Regions from separate parts of the Homo sapiens genome. Here all the other regions are linked to region 3. Evidence: fine-mapped QTL for protein levels in blood plasma. A gene starts in region 3. Each other region holds a variant in brackets. All regions are shown on one strand. Distances are between the middles of the regions. Region 1 has its middle 11 kb from the start of MUC3A. Region 2 holds the start of MUC3A (mucin 3A, cell surface associated). Region 3 holds the start of ACHE (acetylcholinesterase (Yt blood group)). Region 4 has its middle 17 kb from the start of MUC3A.

What was found. PIP is the chance, under the fine-mapping model, that this variant and not a neighbour inherited with it causes the effect. The UK Biobank Pharma Proteomics Project read protein levels with antibody pairs (Olink). The fine-mapping took linkage between variants from a reference panel, not from the people measured, so its PIPs are less certain.
Region 1: its variant is fine-mapped to the plasma level of the ACHE protein (UK Biobank, PIP above 0.99).
Region 2: its variant is fine-mapped to the plasma level of the ACHE protein (UK Biobank, PIP above 0.99).
Region 4: its variant is fine-mapped to the plasma level of the ACHE protein (UK Biobank, PIP above 0.99).

Annotation. Positions count from the first base shown.
Region 1 is chr7:100,936,257-100,941,405 of GRCh38, reverse strand. No RefSeq gene overlaps it. Among named protein-coding and RNA genes, the nearest start is that of MUC3A, 11 kb to the left of the region's middle. The variant G/A (reference allele first, on the strand shown) is at 2,981.
Region 2 is chr7:100,947,926-100,953,074 of GRCh38, reverse strand. It overlaps MUC3A (mucin 3A, cell surface associated), which reads right to left and starts at 3,541. Exons shown (of 12, transcript NM_005960.2): 1 at 3,390-3,541; 2 at 1-1,234. The coding sequence starts at 3,450. All of the region lies in intron 1 of LOC105375431 (a long non-coding RNA gene), which reads left to right. RefSeq lists enhancers at 1,449-1,994, 2,045-3,023, 3,024-4,002. The variant CAAAAAA/A (reference allele first, on the strand shown) is at 2,069.
Region 3 is chr7:100,893,342-100,898,464 of GRCh38, reverse strand. It overlaps ACHE (acetylcholinesterase (Yt blood group)), which reads left to right and starts at 2,577. Exons shown (of 5, transcript NM_000665.5): 1 at 2,577-2,663; 2 at 4,213-5,123. The coding sequence starts at 4,233. RefSeq lists silencers at 1,224-1,303, 2,526-2,675, 2,736-2,785 and enhancers at 2,140-2,760, 5,032-5,123.
Region 4 is chr7:100,930,089-100,935,237 of GRCh38, reverse strand. No RefSeq gene overlaps it. Among named protein-coding and RNA genes, the nearest start is that of MUC3A, 17 kb to the left of the region's middle. RefSeq lists an enhancer at 1,326-1,827. The variant C/T (reference allele first, on the strand shown) is at 2,053.

The DNA.
Region 1 (5,149 bases), 43 kb before region 3:
GTGTGTGCTTAAAACTTTTATTTTAATGATATTATTCTTGAATTGCAAGCCCAGATATCTATAGCATGATTGGTCTTAGTGAATTTATTGAGGTGTACGTTTTATTTAAAAGTATGTGGTGGCTCACGCCTGTCATCCCAGCACTTTGGGAAGCTGAAGAGGGTGGATCACAAGGTCAGGAGATCAAGAACATCCTGGCTAACGTGGTGAAACCCCATCTCTACTAAAAATACAAAAAATTAGCCAGACGTGATGGCAGGCGCCTGTAGTCCCAGCTACTCAGGAGGCTGAGGCAGGAGAATGGCATGAGCCCGGGAGGCAGAGCTGGCAGTGAGCCGAGATTGCACCACTGCACTCTAGCCTGGGTGACAGAGCAAGACTCCATCTCAAAAAAAGAAAATGAATAAAAAGACAAGAAAATGTGGCACATATATACCATGGAATACTATGCAGCCATAAAAAAGGATGAGTTCATGTCCTTTGCAGGGACATGGATGAAGCTGGAAACCATCATTCTTAGCAAACTATCGCAAGGACAGAAAGCCAAACACTGCATGTTCCCACTCATAGGTGGGAATTGAACAATGAGAACACTTGGTCACAGGGCAGGAACATCGCACACTGGACTTTGTTGGGGGCTGGCGGGCTGGGGGAGGGATGGCATTAGGAGAAATACCTAATGTAAATGACGAGTTGATGGGTGCAGCAAACCAGCATGGCACATGTATACCTATGTAACAAACCTTCATGTTGTGCACATGTATCCTAGAATTTAAAGTATAATAAAAAAAATCATACCACGGTCTTTCCTATAGAAAGATCTAAGCTTGCTAATATGACTGAATTGCTTTACTATTGAATTCCAGCAAACACTTAAGGAAGAAATCATACCAACTGTACACAAACTCTTTCAGAAAATGGAACACTTCCCAACTTTGTTTATGAGCCCAGCATTATTCTGATACCAAACCAAGACAAATACATTACAAGAAAACTAGACCGATAGCCCTAATGAATATAGACACAAAAATCCTCAAGGAAATATTATGAAATAAAACATAGCAATACATAAAAATAATGCATCATGACCAAGTGGGGTTAATCCCAGGGATACAAAGCTGGTTAAACATTTGAAAATGAATCAATGTAATTTCTTATGTCAACAGTCTAAAGATGAGAAACCACATGATCATTTCCATAGATGCAGGAAAAGCATTTGACAAAATCTGACGTCCATTACTGATAAAAGCTCTCCGAAAACTAGTAAATAGAAGGAACTTCCTCAACCTATTAAAGGACAGCTACAAAAAAGAAAAAAAAAATCAGCAAAGTATCTTAGTCTGTTCAGGCTGCTGCAACAAAATACTGTAAACTGGGTAGTTTATAAACAACAGACATTTATTCTCATAGTTCTAGAGGCTGGGAAGTCCAAGATCAAGGCAGATTTTGTGTCTAGTGAGATCCTGCTTTCTGGCTTATAGACAGTTCCTTCTTTCTGTGTCTTCACATGGTAGAAGGGCAAGGGTCTTTCTAGGTCTCCTTTTTTTTTTTTTTTTTTTTTTTTTCCTGAGACAGAGTCTCACTGTGTCACCCAGGCAGGCTTGGGGCTCACTGCGACCTCTTCCTCCCAGGATCAATGATTCTCCTGCCTCAGCCTCCCAAGTAGCTGGGACTACAGTCATGTGCCACCATGCCCTGCTAGTTTTTGTACTTTTAGTAGAGATGTATTTCACCATGTTGGCCAGGCTGGTCTCGAACTCCTGACCTCAAGTGATCCACCTACCTCAGCCTCCCGAAGTGCTGGGATTATGGGTATGACCTTATCTGGCCTCTGGGTCTCTTTCATAAGGGCACTAATCCCATTCATGAGGGCTCCACCACCATGGCCTAATCACCTCCTGATATGGTTTGGGTCTGTGTCCCCACCCAAATCTCATGTTAAAATGTAATCCCCAGTGCTGGAGGTGGGGCCTGGTGAGAGGTGATTGGATCATGGAGGTGAATCCTTCATAAATGGTTTAACACCATCCCCTTGGTGCTATTCTTGTGGTAGAGTTTTCATGAGCTCTGGTTGTTTAAAAGTGTGTGGCACCTCCCCACTCTCTCTCTTCCTCCTGCTCTGGCTGTGTGAAGACACCTGCTCAGGCTTTGCCTTCTGCCATGAGTAAAAGCTCCCTGAGGCCTCCCCAGCCATGCTTCCTGCATGGCCTGCAGAACCCTAAGCCAATTAAACATATATATGACCCAGTCTCAGTTCCTTCTTTTTTTTTTTTTTTTTTTTTGAGACAGAGTCTTGCTCTGTCATCCAGGCTGGAGTGCAGTGGTGCGATCTTGGCTCACTGCAACCTCCACCTCCCGGGTTCAAGTGATTCTCCTGCCTCAGCCTCCCGAGTAGCTGGGATTACAGGTGTGTGTCACCACTGCCAGCTAATTTTTGCATTTTTTAGTAGAGAGGGGTTTCACCATGTTTGCCAGGCTGGTCTCGAACTTCTGGCCTCAAGTGATTCACCCACCTCGGACTCCCGAAGTGTCAGTTATTTCTTTATAACAATGTGAGAACAGACTAAAACACCTCCTAAAGGCCCCACCTCCTGATATCATCACCTTGGGGGTTAAGATGGCAACATATATGGATTTCGGGGAGCCACAAACATTCAGACCATGGCACTAAGTACATCTATAAAGCTAAGGTCATTAATAGGTTTTTTTTATATGTTTATTTGTTTATTTTGAAACGGAGTCTCGCTCTGTCACCAGCCTGCAGTGCAGTGGCACAATCTCACCTCACTGCAACCTCTGCCTCCCAGATTCAAGTGATTCTCCTTCCTCAGCCTCCCAAGTAGCTGGGATTACAGGTACATGCCACCACACCCAGCTAATTTTGGTATTTTTAGTAGAGATGGGGTTTCACCATGTTGTCCAGGATGGTCTCGATCTCCTGACCTGGTGATCTGCCCACCTCGGCCTCCAAAAGTGCTGG[G/A]ATTACAGGTGTGAGCCACCATACCCGGCCAATCATTAATAGGTTTTGGAGGGCGATTCTTTGTTATGTCAAGACGAATCTTTCAGCTGGGCACAGTGGCTCACACTTGTAATCCTAACACTTTGGGAGACGGGAGGATCACTTGAGCCCAGGAGTTCAAGACCAGCCTGGGCAACATAGTGAGACACTGTTTTAAAAAAAAAAAATCACTGTGATTAAATGCAGCAGTGCAGAATTGCTTTTGGTTTACTATTTTGACAAGAGCCATCCACTGGTCTCATCCTAACATTTCTTATTCTATAGGTTAGGAAGTCAGTGTGGGAATTCTGCAGGGTGGTGAGGATATTAATCTCAATTTTACACTTAGATATTAGGAAAGTGACCATAGGAAGTTTGTGGGCACAGGGGCCTATAGTGAGGCAAAGTCAGGGTATAACTACATTTATCAGGGCTTTTGTTAAAAAGTCAAGAAAGGTCGGGCATGGTGGCTGACACCCATAATCCCAGCACTTTGGGAGGCTGACGCTGGCAGATCACTCGAGGTCAGGAGTTTGAGACCAGCCTGGCCCCCGTCTCTACTAAAAACACAAAAAAATTAGTCGGGCATGGTGGCACACACCTGTAATCCTGGCTACCCGGAAGGCTGAGTCAGGAGAATCACTTGAACCCGGGAAGCAGAGGTTGCAGTGAGCTGAGATGGCCCCACTGCACTCCAGCCTGGGCGACAGAGTGCGACTCCACCTCAAAAAAAAAAAAAAAAAAAAAAGTCAAAAAAAAAGACCAGGTATAGTGGCTCATGCCTGAAATCTCAGCACTTTGGGAGGCAGAGGCTAGAGGATCCCTTGAGGTCAGAAGTTGGAGACCGGCCTGGGCAACATAGTGAGACCTCATCTCTACCAAAAAAAAAAAAATTTTAAATTATCTGTGTGTGTTGGTGTAGTGTGTGCCTATAGTCACAGCTACTAAGGAAGCTGAGGCAGGAGGATTGCTTGAGCCCAGGAGTCTGAGACTGCAGTGAGCCATGATCATGCCACTCCACTCCAGCCTGGGTGGCAGAGCAAGACTTTCCTCATATATTTAAAAAAAAAAAAACAGATGGCAGCAAGGCTGTGGAGAAAAGGGAACACTCATTCACTGTTGGTCAGAATGTAAATTGTTCAGCCATTACGAAGAGCAGTTCGGATATTTCTCAAAGAACTATGAGTCGAAGTACCAACCAACCCAGCAACCCCACTACTGGGTAACTATCCCCCCAAAAAATAAATTGTTCTACCAAAAGGACACCTGCACCCATGGCACAACAGTATTCACAATAGAAAAGACATGGAATCAACCTAGATGCCCATCTATGGTGAAAAATACAGTATACATACACCATGGATTACTACACAGCCATAAAAAAGAACAAAATCATGTCCATTGCAGCAACGGGGATACAGCTGGAAACCACTAGTCTGAGCTAACTAACGCAGAAACAAAAAACCAAATAACGCTTATTCTCACTTATAAGTGGGAGCTAAATATTGGGTGCACATGGACATAAAAATAAAAACAATAGACACAGGGACTATTAGAGGTAGAAGAGAAGGAGCAGGGCAAGGGCTGAAAAAATGATCTACTGGATACTATGCTCACTACCTTGGTGACATATTCATTCATACCCCAAAACTCAGCATCACATCATATACCTTTGTAACAAACCTGCACTTGCATCCCCTTTTTCTAAAATATTAATAGAAGTTGGCTGGCCAGGCGTGGTGGCTCACGCCTGTAATCCCAGCACTTTGGGAGGCCGAGGCGGGCGGAGGTCAGGAGTTCGAGACCAGCCTGGCCACTGTGGTGAAACCCTGTCTCTGCTAAAAATACAAAAATTAGCCTGGTGTGGTGGCAGGCGCCTGTAATCCCAGCTGCTCGGGAGGCTGAGGCAGGAGAATCACTTGAACCCGGGAGGTGGAGGTTGCAGTAAGCCCGGATCGTGCCACTGCACTTTAGCCTGGGTGACAGAGTGAGACCCTGTCTTGAAAGAAAGAAAAAAAGAGAGAAAGAGAGAAAGAGAGAGAGAAAGAAAGAGAGAAAGAACAGAAAAAAAGAAAGAAAGAAAGAAAGAAGAAAGAGAAAAAGAAAATTAGTTCTTCAGTTGCATTATCCATATTTTAAGAGTACAATGCC
Region 2 (5,149 bases), 55 kb before region 3:
GTGGAAGTCACCATAGTACCTGAGGTAGGGGGAAGTGAGGAGATGGCAGTTGTGGATGTGCTGACTGTGGAGTAGATGGTTGATGAAGAGAAGCTGGGAGTACTGTGGGAGGAGATCTCAGTGGTGGTGGTTACCAAGTTTGTCATAGGAGTCGTGGCTGTTTCTGTGGTTGGGAGAGAGGAAGAGGTGGGTGGGAGAGAAGTCTCTGTGGACAATGTACCTGTCATACTTGTGGAGTAGGCGATTTTGGTAGTGGAGTCTGTGACAGTGCTGGTGGGAGAAGTAGTGTAGGTGGTCTCAGATGTAGGTGTAGACCTGCTGATGGTAGTGGGGAGTGTGGTCACCAAGGTGGATAGGGGGGTGGTGTTTGTGATACCACTGGTGATTGTTTCTGTGCTCAGGACAGGTGTGGAAGATAAAATGGTCCTAGTGGGTGATGACAATGTATTAGTGGCTGTGGGCTGGGAGGCGGTCGTTGTCATAGAAGTCACTGTATTTGTGGAAGTGATTGAAGAAGTGATGGGGGAAGTGGAAGTCACTGCTGTTTTGAGAGTAGTAAATACTGGGGTTGGGGACGTGGTTGTATGGATGCTTCCAGTGGGCAGGGGAGTCCTTTCTGTGGTTCTAGTTGTAGACGAGATTGTAGTGTGGAAGGTTGTGTCTGTGGCTGACACAGAGGAGGGTGTCACTGTCACTATGGGAGTTTCCCTTGCAGTGGTGGTAGAGGGAGAAGATGTCATGGCTGACGTTCCTTTCTCAGTAGTGGTCATAGAGTAAGTACTGGTGACGGTGGTCACTGGCTTCTGTGTCACGGGAGTCGAGGTGTAAGAGCTGGTGAAGGCCACCTGCGTCGTGGTCACACAGATGGAGGTGGGGTGGGAGATGGTGATTATAAAGCTCGTTGGATACACGCACTCAGTGGTGGCTGAATAGACCAACACGGTGGGTGGAGTGGTTTCAACCTTGAAGGCAAACTTGGACGTCGGGGTGGTTGAGGTGTTGGAACTGACTGGAGAGTTGAGCAATGTTTCAGAGATGAGTGTGTCATGGGGGGAGGTAGTGAGTGTCATAGGTGCATTTTCCCTGTGGCCAGGAGCAGGAGAGGCGAGCTGGGGGACACCAAGTGGCCACCCAGCCAGGTCTCTGGAGTGTGGAGAATTGCTGAGCACAGCGCTGGCTGCTTCTGCTCTGGGGAAAGGCACTTGAGAGATGGATGTGGCCGTGGATAAAGTTCCTGCATTGGCGGCAGAGCAGAGGAATCCACTGGTAAATCCGTGGGTCATTTTGTTACATCACTCATGTAAGCTACTCACTCACCCATTTTCCAGGCAGCATCACAGAGGGCAGGGCATATTACAGCTGACTCCTGCATCAGAGGCAGCTTGGAGCTGGGTGCTTTGTGGTGCTGGAGACGACTGCCTGTCTGCTCCTAGGGGAGCAGTGGGGCATGGGAGCCCTCATTCCTCACCGGGCCTTGGCCTTGTCATGGCAGGTCCTCCTGTCCTGATATAGCCGAGCTGGGCAGAGCCTCCCTCCCCTCCCTTCCCTCCTCTGGTCACACCCAGGCTCCTCCTCCCTCTGCCCCTTCCTCTCCTCCCCCTGCTACTGCCTGGAGTGCTCCCATCCCCCCATTAACCTTCTGCTCCCACCACTGCTTCTCCCGGCACCCTGCTGCTGTCTGGGCTGACTCCGCTTTCAAAGAGAAAAAGAGAGAACCCAGCCATGTCCTGGCAGGGGGCGCATCACAAAAACCAGGAGACAGGGAAAGCTGAACAAAGAGGGCCAGGCACGGTGGCTCATGCCTGTAATCCCAGCACTTTGAAAGGCCAAGGCAGGAGATCACTTGAGGTCAGGAGTTCGAGACCAGTCTGACCAACATGGTGAAACCCTTTCTCTACTAAAACAAAATACAAAAATTAGCCAGGCGTAGTGGCGTGTACCTGTAGCTGAGGCAGGAGAATCGCTTGAACCCAGGAAGCAGAGGCTGCAGTGAGCTGAGATGGTGCCACTGCACTCCAGCCTGGGTGACAGAGCAAGACTCCATCAAAAACAAAAACAAAAACAAAAA[CAAAAAA/A]CTGCCCAGAGAACACCAAAGAGAAACAGGCTAAGCTCACACACTAATGACTTCAAAGGGCATGGAGTGAGGACTAGGTGAAGAGGCAGAGAGACAGCATAGAAAAGGAAACTTCCAGAAGGAGCTACCTCAGCAGTCAGGCGTGATGAGTTCTGGAGACCTTAAGGCTTAGCAGTGAGTGTTCATCACACAAATAGACATATTTTTCTATACTATTCCCTTTTGGCCGTGGGATTCATTAGTTTACAAGCATGAACCCCAGCATGTGGATTTCAACCCATTTCACAATTTGTCAGAGTTAGGATCAGAGATCCGGCTGTCGGGGGTGTCAGGGACAAGGAAGACAGGCAGCCACAGCAGATGGGAAGTGGGAGGTACCCGACCTGCTACCCCTCACCTCGGGCACAGCCCATCTTGTGGCTGAGAGCTGGGGTGTCACGTCTCAACCTAGCTCGTGGGTGCCAGGGAAGTGGGGTCAGGGATTATGAGAATCCCCAGGCTACAGCCCTTGGCTCCAGGATGTGGCCCTGGAGGTGACTGAGAAGGGGACTCATGGGCCTGTAGGCTGGGTGGCCTGGGATCGGGGATCAGAAGCAGACACTGAAGTACAGAGAAAAGAGAAGTATAGAGGAATTGCGAGGTGTTCCTGCAGGGCAGAAGAGAGAAGCCTGGGACCCCACGACGGGTAGTCTCAGACGCACCCTTGGAAGCGAAGTGGACATCAGGAGCTCCCTGCCCCGGCCCTGGTACCAACAGCTGTACCCAGACACATGGGCCCTGGCCGGGGTAAGAGAGTGACGGCAGAGCTGGGGAGGAGCCGCCGGGGGACAAAAGGCAGAGAGGCTGAAACCAGAGGACCGAGACCAGGGGTAGAAGTTAGAGGGCTGTCAGGGAGGGAGAGGCCAGTGTGAAGGGGACACTCAAGCTGGGGGCGTGAGGCAGGTGACAGAAGGAGTCAAGACAGGAAGGGCACTGCTCTGGGAAGACGTAAATCCCACCCTCTACCCTCCAGCTGCAGATACAGATTGGGGCTCAGCCGCTGCAACCTGCTCAGTGCTTGGTGGAGAGTGGCAGAGACCCAGCTCCCTCACTCTTTCCCAACCTCGGTTTTCCCTGCACCTGGAGCTCTGGAAGAAACCTCTCCTCACCGCCCCCTCCCCCAGTCAGGCCGTGCCTCGGTTCTCCCTGCACCCAGAGCCCCAAGCGGTGCCTTCTTATCCCCCCTCCCCAGGCCTTACAGCCACTTTTCCCTCCCCTTTCCTGGAACATCACATCAGGAGCTTTTCTCCAACCCCCTTCCGCCTCTCCCCCTTACCTGTGGCCCACGGGGAGGCCTTGAGCATCCAGAGGAGGCCGAGGAGCCCCAACAGCTGCATGGGCCCAGCGGGCAGGGGGCTGGGGCAGAACAGGCTTCAGGACCAAGACAGCGGCAGGGACGTGGCCCTGGGGCGTGCACGTAATGAAAGTGCTGGTTATCGGTTTTGCTGAGCGTCAGGGCTGAGCACAGCCTCACCTTTGCACCGCCCCACCTCTCCCCTCTTCCTCCCTTCTCCCTGCACCCGGACAGACAGACGTCAGCGCTGTGGGAAGCGGGACACGGGGGAAAAAGATAGGACAAGTCCAGGAAGTGTCAGGCAGGAAGAGCTGCTATTGGCTCAGCCCCACAGCCTGCCTGGCCCACATGGAACTGCCTGGAAGCTGCCCTTCCTCCCCGACACCCGTGGAGGGTACCCTTGACCGAGGGCTTGGACTCTGGAGTCTGGTCCTACTCCTGCAGCCTCTCCTGAGTTTCAATTCCTCCTGCTGGGGAGACAGTGGCACCTCGCTCTCCTTCAAGCCCCTTCTGTCCCTCAGTCTGCCCCTGCTCCATCCTGTCCCCCGCAGGACCCCATAGGCCAGAAAAAACCGTGGGAGTAATTAACACAGAATTCCATCTGAAGTCATTTTATTATCTGAAGAGTTGGGGCTAGGTCCCAGAAAAGGAAACATGGATGACCAAAGGAAACACTCAAAAATACTAGTCTGGGCCCGGCGCGGTGGCTCACGCCTGTATTCCCAGCACTTTGCAAGGCTGAGGGGTGTGGATCACTTGAGGTCACGAGTTCGAGACCAGCCTGGGCAAAATGGCAAAACCCCATCTCTACTAATAGGCTGAGGCAGAAAAATCGCTTGAAACCAGAAGGTGGAGGGTGCAGTGAGCCAAGAGCACACCACTACACTCCAGCCTGAGCAACAGAGCGAGACTCCATCTCAAAAAAAAAAAAAAAAAAAAAAAACTGGTTTGGACCCAGCACATTGTTTGACCTATCCAGTTTGGGCAAAGGTGTGAAGAATAAACGTTCTTACCCAGCTGGTGGATGTGTAGGTGGGTTGGGTTGTTTTAAAAGAGTAATTTGAGGATCACTTGAGGTCAGGGGTTCGAGACTAGACTGGCCAACATAGTGAAACCCCATCTCTACTAAAAATACAAAAATTAGCCTGGCGTGGGGTGGGCACCTGTAATCCCACCTACTTGGGAGGCTGAGGCAGGAGAATTGCTTGAACCCCAGAGGCAGAGGTTGCAATGAGCTGAGATCGTGCCTCTGCACTCCAGCCTGGGCAACAGAGCGACACTTCATTTCAAAAACAAGATAAAGTAAAACAAATGTTCTTATCCAGCTGGTGGGTGTGTAGGTGGGTTGGGTTGCTTTAAAGGGGTAATTTGGTGGCATCTATTAAAATTTTAAATGAGTGCCTTAGGACCCAGCAATTTCACCCTCCATCTCTGTGTCCAAGAAACCCTTCAAGGCAGCATTCATGAGGATGTTTATTGACTCTCGATTATGGCAATTTTGATGGAAATTGGAAACAGCCCAAACGATTGTTTCAACCCAGAAAGAAGATGGAATAGTCACCCTACAGAACACTGTGCTCAGGCCAGATTCAGTGGCTTACGCCTGTAATTCCAGCACTTTGGGAGGCCGGGGCAGGAGGATCTCTTGAGCCCAAATGTTCCAGGCCAGCCTGGGCAACATGCCAAGACCCCATCTCTACCAAAAAAAAAAAAAAAACACAAAAAAAATTAGCCAGGCATAG
Region 3 (5,123 bases):
CTGCTAAATATACAAAAATTAGCCAGGTGTGGTGGCAGGCGCCTCTAGTCCCAGCTACTCAGGAGGCTGGGAAAGGAGAATCCTTGAGCCCAGGAGGCAGAGGTTGCAGCGAGCTGAGATGGCATCATCTCTACACTCTAGCCTGGGCGACAGAGCGAGACTCTGTCTAAAAAAAAAAAATGGCGCTTCCTTCCAAGGTGGGAGACAGAGATAAAAGAGGGGTAGGGAAATTCTCTGAATTGGCAGAACTGGTAGTAGAAGCAAGGCTCATTCCTGGATAAACAGAAATGGTGAGAGAAGAAATGGGAAAAATCAAGGACATCCCTGCAGTGACAGCTGTGGAGGGTGGGGAGTTTACTATGCTAGACTATGTAGGGAAACGCCTCCTGGCTTGACAGGTTAGGTGCCTGTGTTGACAACGGTTGCTGAGAGCTCAAGGTGAAAAGAGGGATAGTTCCAGGAAATGATAACCCTGGTGATAAACTATCCCTGCCCTCCCTATCTTCATTGTACAGGCCTAGAAACTCGTGACGACAGAGGTTAGGTGACACCTGCGTGGCACAGTTCGTCTGGAGGGTGACAGGGGCAAGCCTTCATCACTAGCAGGGCCAAAAATCCCTAAAGCCTCAGGACTGGGGCAGGCCTCAGAGCACTCGTTCACAGTTTGTTTCCATCATTTTATTTTTTTGCGGAGAAGGGAGTCTCGCTATGTTGCCCAGGCTAGTCTCCAACTCCTGGACTGAAGCGATCCTCCTGTCTCGGCCTCCCAGAGTGCTGGGATTACAGGCACCGCACTAGGGGCCACACGCGGCCCCATCATTTTAATAATTCATAATTACCACGCTTAGAAACCTGCCTCAGATTCATTCCCCCCGCAGCAACACCCACCATCCACCCTCCTGTCCCCTCCCCCATGCACAGCCCTTACATCTGCTCTTCAGGGATCTCAACTAGGGCACATGGTCTGGCCAGTGAGGAGCCTTCAACTAGTGCGGCCAGAACGCTGAAGGCCGGATACAAGGAGCCTCGGTGTCCAGGCAGGGGATTTGGGGTTGCCTGAGATTGGGGCGGGGAAAGCCGGAGACAGTGGGCACAGATGGCGAGGGGTTCACCTCCCCAACACCCCCAACCCAGCCCAGTCTCCGAGGCCCGAGTGGCTGCTTTTTGCGCCACCTGGCGGCCGTCTCCAGCGAGCGGAGCGCGGGTGACCGTGCCTGCGGGACCCGGTTCCCGTGGGGCGAGCGGGCGTGGGGCCCGCCCAGCTTGGAGAGCCGGGAACCGCGCGGCCCAGGGACTGGCAAGACTCCGGATTCAACCCCTGCGAGGCCCCGCAACCCGGTGCCCGCGGTCCCTGGCGGCGGCGCCCGCGTGCCCGAGGCGCTGCGGGGCGCTGCGGGGCGCGCGGCGGTTAGAGCGAGCGTGTGCGCACGCGCCCACCCCACGCCGCGCCCCGCACCGCCGCGCGCGCGCACGCACGCCCGACGCTGGCCTGCGCCGGCCGCTCTCCCACGCGGGGTCTCGGGGGCTCCTGAGCCGGCCGCCTCCAGGAAGCAGGCGCCGCGCGGTATTGCCGCATGCACCTCGGTCGTGGGGACCCCGCTGCAGCAGCCCTGTCCACACGGGTGAACTCCTGGAGGGCGGGGCGGGGGGCAATCTGCGCGGGTCAGGCCCCTCGGAGCAGGCTGGGGGCGCCCGAGCCAGGCCGCTCCCACCTGCCAGCCGCGTGGCCAATGAATGCTAGGCCTGGTGATGTCATGCCCCGACCGGACCCTGGTGACGAAAGTCCGAAGTCACCCGTCAGGGAACCAGCACAGACCCACCCGCGGGGGTTCCAGAAGTTTCCACTGCCGCCGCGGAGTGCGGCCTCGCCCAGCAGCCTTGCGCGTGCTACCACGCTGTCCTGCCTTCTCAGGTGTCCCAAGTCACCCCTTCCTCCCCCAGGGGTCTCCTGTCTCCATGCCCTCCCACCTCATTTCCACTAGCGATCCCATTTTACATCTCCATTCCCACAGGTGTCCTTTCATCCCCAGGAGTGTCCCACGTCACCTTTTCTGCACCCGTGCCACCTGGACCCCTAAGGGGACGGTACTCTGCCACACTCCCACATGCCTCTCCTCCCATGCCACCCGTCTGTGTCGTGGCCGGGGATGCATGACCCCTTGGCCTTGCGCTAACTTCACCAGCCTCGAGCGAGACCGACAGGGTGTCCAAGTGTGTCCGTCCGTCTGTGAAAGTCGTCCCTGCGTTTGTCTGTGCCTGTCACTGCATGAGGTCGTCCGTCTGCGCGTGTCTGTCTCCACGGGCTTCTGTCCGTCTGTCTGTCACGTGGGTGTCTACTCCGCCGCTGCAGGTCTTTGGGTCGCGTCTGTCACTGCGCTCTGTCGTCGGTCGGCGTCTGGCACTGGAGTGCGTCTGGGCCCCGGGGTCTCCGGGTCTCGGCTCCAAGGGAGGGAGAGAGAGGGGAGGTGGCCACCCGGGAGAGCGGGGAGGGGCGGGGGCGGAGACAGTGGGCGGGGGCGGGCGGGGGCGCTGTGAGGCCCGGAGGGGGTGTGTGCGGGGGGCCGGAGGCGGCGGCTGTCAGAGTCGGCTCAGCCTGCGCCGGGGAACATCGGCCGCCTCCAGCTCCCGGCGCGGCCCGGCCCGGCCCGGCTCGGCCGCCTCAGGTGAGTCTCCCTCCCCGCCCGGGACTCTCCTTAAGGCCCGGGTCCGGGGCACCGTGCGCTCCCCGAGGGGTCCAGGCCCCCCTAACGGGACGGCTCCCGCTTCCCCGGGCCTGCCCCGCGCCGCCCTCCGCTGCCCCGCACTCGTCCGGAACTCTTCCCCGGCCGCCTCACACTCACCGACGCCCACGCAGGAGCCCGAGCCCGCGGGAACGGCCGCCGCCTCTGCGCTCCGATTCCCGCGGGGACCCCCGAGCACCCCTTCCCCGATCGCTCCCTAGTCCGGGGCCACTGGAAGACACCCCCTAATTGGGGCGGTACCCGAGCTGCGCAGGTTCCCGGCGCCGGGCTGGGCACCCCCATCCCCAGGGCCACAAGCCAGCGCCCCTGCGCAGCGCCCCGCAGAGGCCCCCTCCGAGGCCCAGGACGCCCCCTCCCGCGGAGACTCCATCTCTATTTTTTGGGAAGGGGAGGCTCGGCGGAAGCCCCGAGTTATAATTAGCGCCACTCGGGTTTCCTAGTTAATCTCCAGCAGCACCACCACCCCCCGCTCAGGGCGGCGGGGGCTGGGCTAGGAGTGACCGGCGGGAGAGGGGGGAGTTCCCACCCGGGGAATTTTGATCCTTTGGCTGGAGATGCCGGAACCGTAGCAGCTGCTGCCCCCAAAATAGCGCCCCCGCCCCTGCAGCCGGGGATCTCCGGAGTCCCGGGAACGCAGGCGTCCCGGCTCGCCCTTCAGGCGGCTCTGCAAGGCCCTCGAGCCCCCAGGCCCCCTCCCCAAGTTCCCGGCTCCTGGCTCGGGGCGGGGAGCGCCGACCTTTTCTCGGTCTCTACTGCCCTCCGCCGGCGGCGGCGTGCACGGCAGCTTCAGACGGATGGGGGGCTCTCGAGTCCTGGGGGACGCGGGCTGGCGAGCCTGTTTGCTGGGGCTGGGCTGGGAGCGTGCGCAGCTGATGGGAACCCGCGGGCATCAGCGCTCGGTGCCAGACATTGGATGAGAAGGGGCAGGGTTGGGTGGGGAGTGGACTAGGCAGGATTTGGGGGACCCCGGGACCTGAGGCTTCCACACCCTGAATGCCCAGCCCACCGCCCCCCAGGGCCCCGGGTCTGGCCGACCCAGGAGAGCGGGGCTGCGCTTCAGGCCGCCGCAAGCTCCCCCAGCGGCGCTGCCCGTCCGTGAGGCCGCGCCCTGTCGGGTGGCCTGTTCGTGGACTGAGGCTTCTGGTGCCCTCACTGCACGAGCTGGGCCCGGCCCAGTTCCGGGAAGAGGTGAGGGCAGTGGACCCCTGCGGAGCAGAGAGGGTGCTCCTCTCTGTTCCCTGCATTTGTCTGGATATGGGTGTCTGCCTGATCTCTTTCCCCTCCTGCCCGCTGGCCTGTGTCCTTGTCTCTGCCTGTCTCCTTCCCTCCCTCCCTCTCTCCCCTCATCTTTGCCAACCTGCCCCACCTCCTCTGCAGCTGAGCGATAACCCTTGGGCCGACAGTGCCCTAATCTCCTCCCTCCTGGCTTCTCGACCGACCCTTCACCCTTTCCCTTTCTTTCTCCCAGCAGACGCCGCCTGCCCTGCAGCCATGAGGCCCCCGCAGTGTCTGCTGCACACGCCTTCCCTGGCTTCCCCACTCCTTCTCCTCCTCCTCTGGCTCCTGGGTGGAGGAGTGGGGGCTGAGGGCCGGGAGGATGCAGAGCTGCTGGTGACGGTGCGTGGGGGCCGGCTGCGGGGCATTCGCCTGAAGACCCCCGGGGGCCCTGTCTCTGCTTTCCTGGGCATCCCCTTTGCGGAGCCACCCATGGGACCCCGTCGCTTTCTGCCACCGGAGCCCAAGCAGCCTTGGTCAGGGGTGGTAGACGCTACAACCTTCCAGAGTGTCTGCTACCAATATGTGGACACCCTATACCCAGGTTTTGAGGGCACCGAGATGTGGAACCCCAACCGTGAGCTGAGCGAGGACTGCCTGTACCTCAACGTGTGGACACCATACCCCCGGCCTACATCCCCCACCCCTGTCCTCGTCTGGATCTATGGGGGTGGCTTCTACAGTGGGGCCTCCTCCTTGGACGTGTACGATGGCCGCTTCTTGGTACAGGCCGAGAGGACTGTGCTGGTGTCCATGAACTACCGGGTGGGAGCCTTTGGCTTCCTGGCCCTGCCGGGGAGCCGAGAGGCCCCGGGCAATGTGGGTCTCCTGGATCAGAGGCTGGCCCTGCAGTGGGTGCAGGAGAACGTGGCAGCCTTCGGGGGTGACCCGACATCAGTGACGCTGTTTGGGGAGAGCGCGGGAGCCGCCTCGGTGGGCATGCACCTGCTGTCCCCGCCCAGCCGGGGCCTGTTCCACAGGGCCGTGCTGCAGAGCGGTGCCCCCAATGGACCCTGGGCCACGGTGGGCATGGGAGAGGCCCGTCGCAGGGCCACGCAGCTGGCCCACCTTGTGGGCTGTCCTCCAGGCGGCACTGGTGGGAATGAC
Region 4 (5,149 bases), 37 kb before region 3:
CACAGACCCGGTCTCCTGAATATTCTTCCATTCTGAGAGAACAAGTAGCTTCTCAATCAGCAACCCAAAGCGATCACTTCACCAATGCTGACAGCCTACACTCAAGGGAAACATGCTAGACACCCCCATAGTTCTCATGTAAAATTCTATTATTGTCAAGTTTTAAACAACCTATTTCTTTTTTTTTCTTTTTTCTGAGATGGAGTTTCGCTATGTCTCCCAAGCCGGCATGCAGTGGCGTGACCTTGGCTCACTGCAACATCCACCTCCTAGGTTCAAGCAATTTCCCTGCCTCAGCCTCCCGAGTAGCTGGGAATACACGCGTGCACCACCATGCCCAGCTAATTTTTATGTTTTCAGTAGAGACAGGGTTTTGCCATGTTGGCCAGGCTGGTCTCAAACTGCTGACCTCAAGTGATCCACCTGCCTCAGCCTCCCAAAGTGCTGGGATTACAGGGGTGTGCCACCACACCTAGCAACCCATTTCTTTGGACTCCAAATTTGCTGATTTAATTTCTAGAAACTGAAAAATCCAGCGTGAGGTCACGGGACTGCATGTGTTTCCATGGGCGTTCTGGTGCAAAAAATAGAATAGTAAAATAAAATAAAATAAACGATCAAACAAGAAAAACCTCAGATTGTGAAAATGCAGAGAGAGAGAGGGGTACAGTATTCTAAACTAAAGCATCATTTGGGAGAAACTTTCTAGATAATGTTGAAGATTGGACAATTCCTAGGTGCCATCCTGTTTGAATCTAATCATCATGAAATTGCCTTTGGAGATTGTCTATAAAAAGAAACCCTGTTTGTTTTGTTTTTGTTTTTGTGAGACAGAGTCTCACTCTGTCACCCAGGCTGGAGTGCAGTGGCTTCATCTTGGCTCACTGCAACCTCAGTCTCCCAGGTTCAAGCCATTCTCCTGCCTCAGCCTCCTGAGTAGCTGGGATCAGAGGCCCATGCCACCATGCCAAGCTAATTTTGTATTTTTAGTAGAGGTGGGGTTTCACCATGTTGGTCAGGCTGGTCTAGAACTCCCGAGGTTTCCCCATGTTGGCCAGGTTAGTCTTATTCTCCTGACCTCAAATGATCCACCCGCCTCAGCCTCCCAAAGTGCTGGGATTACAGGAGTAAGCCCCCCAGCCAGGAAACCCTGTTTTGACAGCAAGGTTAATGGAGTTCTGTGGACTGGCTCCTGATGGGCAGGCCGAATAGCAGCAGGGCTGTGAATACCTCGGCAGTGGCTTTCATGGGTGAGTGGGACCATCTGATGGGCTGGGCAGGGCTCCCTGGATGGGTGGGGTTTCTTGGATGGCTGTGGCTTGCTGGCAGGTGGGGCTTCTTGGGTGGGCAGGGCTTCTTGAGTGGGTGTGGTTTCCTGGATGGGGCGTGGCTTCACGGGTGGGTGCAGTCTTACCACAGGGCCAGACCCCTAGGTAGGGGGAGGTAGAAATCCTCCTAGCCAGGTAGCTGGTACAGAAGCAGATGGTTGGTGGGGAAAGGAGTGGGGAAGGGACAGTTAATCTGGTAACTAAGAGCCTCTGGCCACAGTAACTCCAGAGTTGGACCACAGACACTATATTTGCTGCAAGGAGGGAGGATGGTACCAGAAGACACTGGAGTTGGGAGGACCAACCCCCAGGACCCTAACCCACTGTGCCCAGGTGGGAAACTGGTAACCTGGCCAAGGAGAGTGGTTTGGAGACCCCACTGAAACCGCCTTTGCAAAAATTATGACAGAGGCCGGGTGCAGTGGCTCACACCTGTAATCCCAGCACTTTGGGAGGCCAAGGTAGGTGGAGTGCTTGAGGTCAGGAGTTCGAGACCAGCCTGGCCAACATGGCAAAACCCGTCTCTACTAAAACTTAGCCGGACATGGTGGCAGGTGCCTGTAATCCCAGCTACTCAGGAGGCTGAGACAGGAGAATCACTCGAATCTGGGAGGTAGAGGTTGCAGTGAGCCGAGATCACCCCACTGTACTCCAGCCTGGGTGACAGAGTAGGACTCTGTCTTTAAAAAAAAAGAAAAAAGAAATTATGACAGTGAGTAAGACC[C/T]GACACAGGAAAATGATGGCAGTAAAATAATGTAATCTAGCTGACTTCTTCTTGCTTCTAGCCTCTAAACTGTCCTTGTTCATTCCTGGGCATAGGCTAGGTTAACTTGGGGAGGAATTTAATTTATGGTTTAAACTTAAAGCAAGGATGATAATAGCCCTTCCCAAAACTACCACCTGTTTGTTCTGGGACCAAACTGCCTTTGTAAAACTAATGACAACTCACAAGATTAGGATTATGGGGGTGTCTGAACTCTGCTAAAATGAAGCTAAAAGTTCAGCCATTGAGCTGGGTGCGGTGGCTCACGCCTGTAATCCCAGCACTTTCGAAGGCCGCGGGGGGAGGGGGGATGCGGATCATGAGGTCAGGAGTTCGAGACCAGCCTGGCCAACGTGGTGAAACCCCGTCTCTACTAAAAATACAAAAAAATTAGCCGGGTAGATGGTGAGCCTCTACCTCCCAGATTCAAGTGATTCTCCTGCCTCAGCCTCCCAAGTAGCTGGGACTACAGGCATGCACCACCAACCCCGGCTAATTTTTTTGTATTTTAGTAGAGACGGGGTTTCACCACGTTGGCCAGGCTGGTCTCAAACTCCTGACCTCATGATCTGCCTGCCTCGGCCTCCCAAAGTGCTGGGATTACAGGTGTGAATCACCGCACCCGGCCTCTTGAAAGTATTTTTACTAGGTATAGAATTCTAAGTTGACAGTTTTTTTTTTTTTCAGCACATGAATAAGATTCCATTGTCTTCCGGCTTCAAGGTTGCTATACAGAAGACTGAGCTTAATCTGTCAGGCCTTTAATTTTTTTTCTCTTGCTGCTTTAAGACTTTCTGTTTCGTTAATATTCTGAAGCTTCACCAGGATGTTTCTGGGCATGGATTTCTTTGTATTTATCATGCTTGGGATTCCTTGGCTTCTCAAAGCTGATAAGGTCTCTTCTCAGTTTGGGAAACTTGCCAGCCATTCTCTCTTCACATATTTTCTCTTCCCCCGTTAACTCTTTTCTCCAGGAACTGCAATTAAATAGAGGTTAACCCTTCCCTTTCTATTCTTCATGTGTTTTTAACTACTCTTCCGTATTTTCTGTCTCATAGCTGCTCATGAAGCATGTGGTGAGTTTCTTCTGTTCTCTCAGTTTACAGATTCTCTCTTCAGCTCTGTCTAATCTGCCACTAAAACCTCCTAATAAGTTTGTTTGTTTTTTTTTTTTTTTTTTTGAGATGGAGTCTCTCTCTGTCACCCAGGCTGGAGTGCAGTGGCACGATCTCGGCTCACTGCAACCTCCGCCTCCCGGGTTCACACCATTCTCCTGCCTCAGGCTCCTGAGTAGCTCGGACTACAGGCGCCTACCACTGCCACCACACCCAGCTAATTTTCCTTCGTACTTTCTTAGCAGAGATGGGGTTTCACTGTGTCAACCAGGATGGTCTTGATCTCCTGACCTCATGCTAATAAGTTTTTCAATAAACAAATCTACATTTTAATAAGTTATTGGATACACACATGTATTTATTACTGAAAATGGAAATAACATATCAAAATATCCTCCTTTCGCTATTCAAGTTTGTTGGGTTCTTTTGTTTGTTTTTTGAGACTGAGTCTCATTCTTTTGCCCAGGCTGGAGTGCAGTGGTGCCATCTCAGCTAACTGCAACCTCCACCTCCCAGGTTTAAGTGATTGTCCTGCCTCATCCTCCTGAGTAGCTGGGATTACAGGCATGCACCACCATGCCTGGCCAATTTTTGTATTTTTAGTAGAGACTAAAAATAGTTTCACCATGTTGGCCAGGCTGGTCTCAAACTCCTGACCTCAAGTGATCCGCCCGTCTTGGCCTCCAAAAGTGCTAAGATTGCAGGCATGAGCCACTGCACCCAGCCTCAATATTCAAGTTTTTTTAAAGGTAAAGACACATCTAGCTACATGTACCCTTCTCTAATGTTATGCTTTATCCAAACTACCCAATGTAAACTCATTTTATATATTCCTTCCACATAAATTTCTTTACTTCAAGTGTTTGATGTTAGGTCTGCTCTCATCTCATTGACTTCAGGATTCTAAACCATACATGTAATCCATGAGAACTTGTACTACCTGGAGCCAAATCAAAAACTAGAACTGAGATACCAAAGCATCAAATTACAAAGAGGGACAAAGGGAAAAAAAAAAATTTACGTAGTCAAAATCATATTTTGAGTTATTAAAAATTATTGGATTTTTGCTGGGCACAATGGCTCACGCCTGTAATCCCAGCACTTTGGGAGGCCGAGGTGGGCAGATCCTGAGGTCGGGAGTTTGAGACTAGCCTGGCTAACATGGTGAAACTCCATCTCTACTAAAAATACAAAATTAGCCAGGCGTGGTGGCATGTGCCTGTAATCCCAGCTGGTCAGGAGGCTGAGGCAGAAGAATCACTTGAACCTGGAAGGCAGAGGTTGCAGTGAGCCGGGATTGTACCACTGCACTCCAGCCTGCGTGGCAGAGTGAGACTCATCTCCAAACAATAACAATAAAAATAAAAATTATTGGATTTATGCTTTCACTTAGAGTAAAAAAGCCACAAGAGGCTGGGCATGGTGACTGACACCTGTAATCCCAGCATTTTGAGAAGCCAAGGCAGGAGGATCGTTTGAGGCCAGGAGCTCAAGACCAGCCTGGGCAGCCTAGCAAGGCCCCCATCTCTACAAAAAGTGCAATAAAATTAATACATAAAATAAATCCACAAGAGACTATCACTCCTACCATAAAAAGAAGAAAAAGCTGGGTAATCTATAGGTTTTGGCATTTCTTGAGCCCATCAGAAATTTAGGCTTCAAGGCAACCAGGTGAACTGAGGTCCAAAGAGTGACCGCACCCTCTCAGGAGAGACAGGACACATGAAAAGTTCCACCTTTGTCAGAGCACAGGAGGAAGAAGTGGCCACCAAAAAAGCAGGTGATAGGAAAACAACATTTTAATGAATTCTCAGAGGCCAGGAGTGGGCCAGCATGACAACTTAGAATCCCCCTGGGTGCATCAGGATCTAGCAGACCCCAAGTTCACTCGCAATCTCTTTTCCACCTCTTGGTGCTCATGAGAAAGATTGGAGGTACAATGA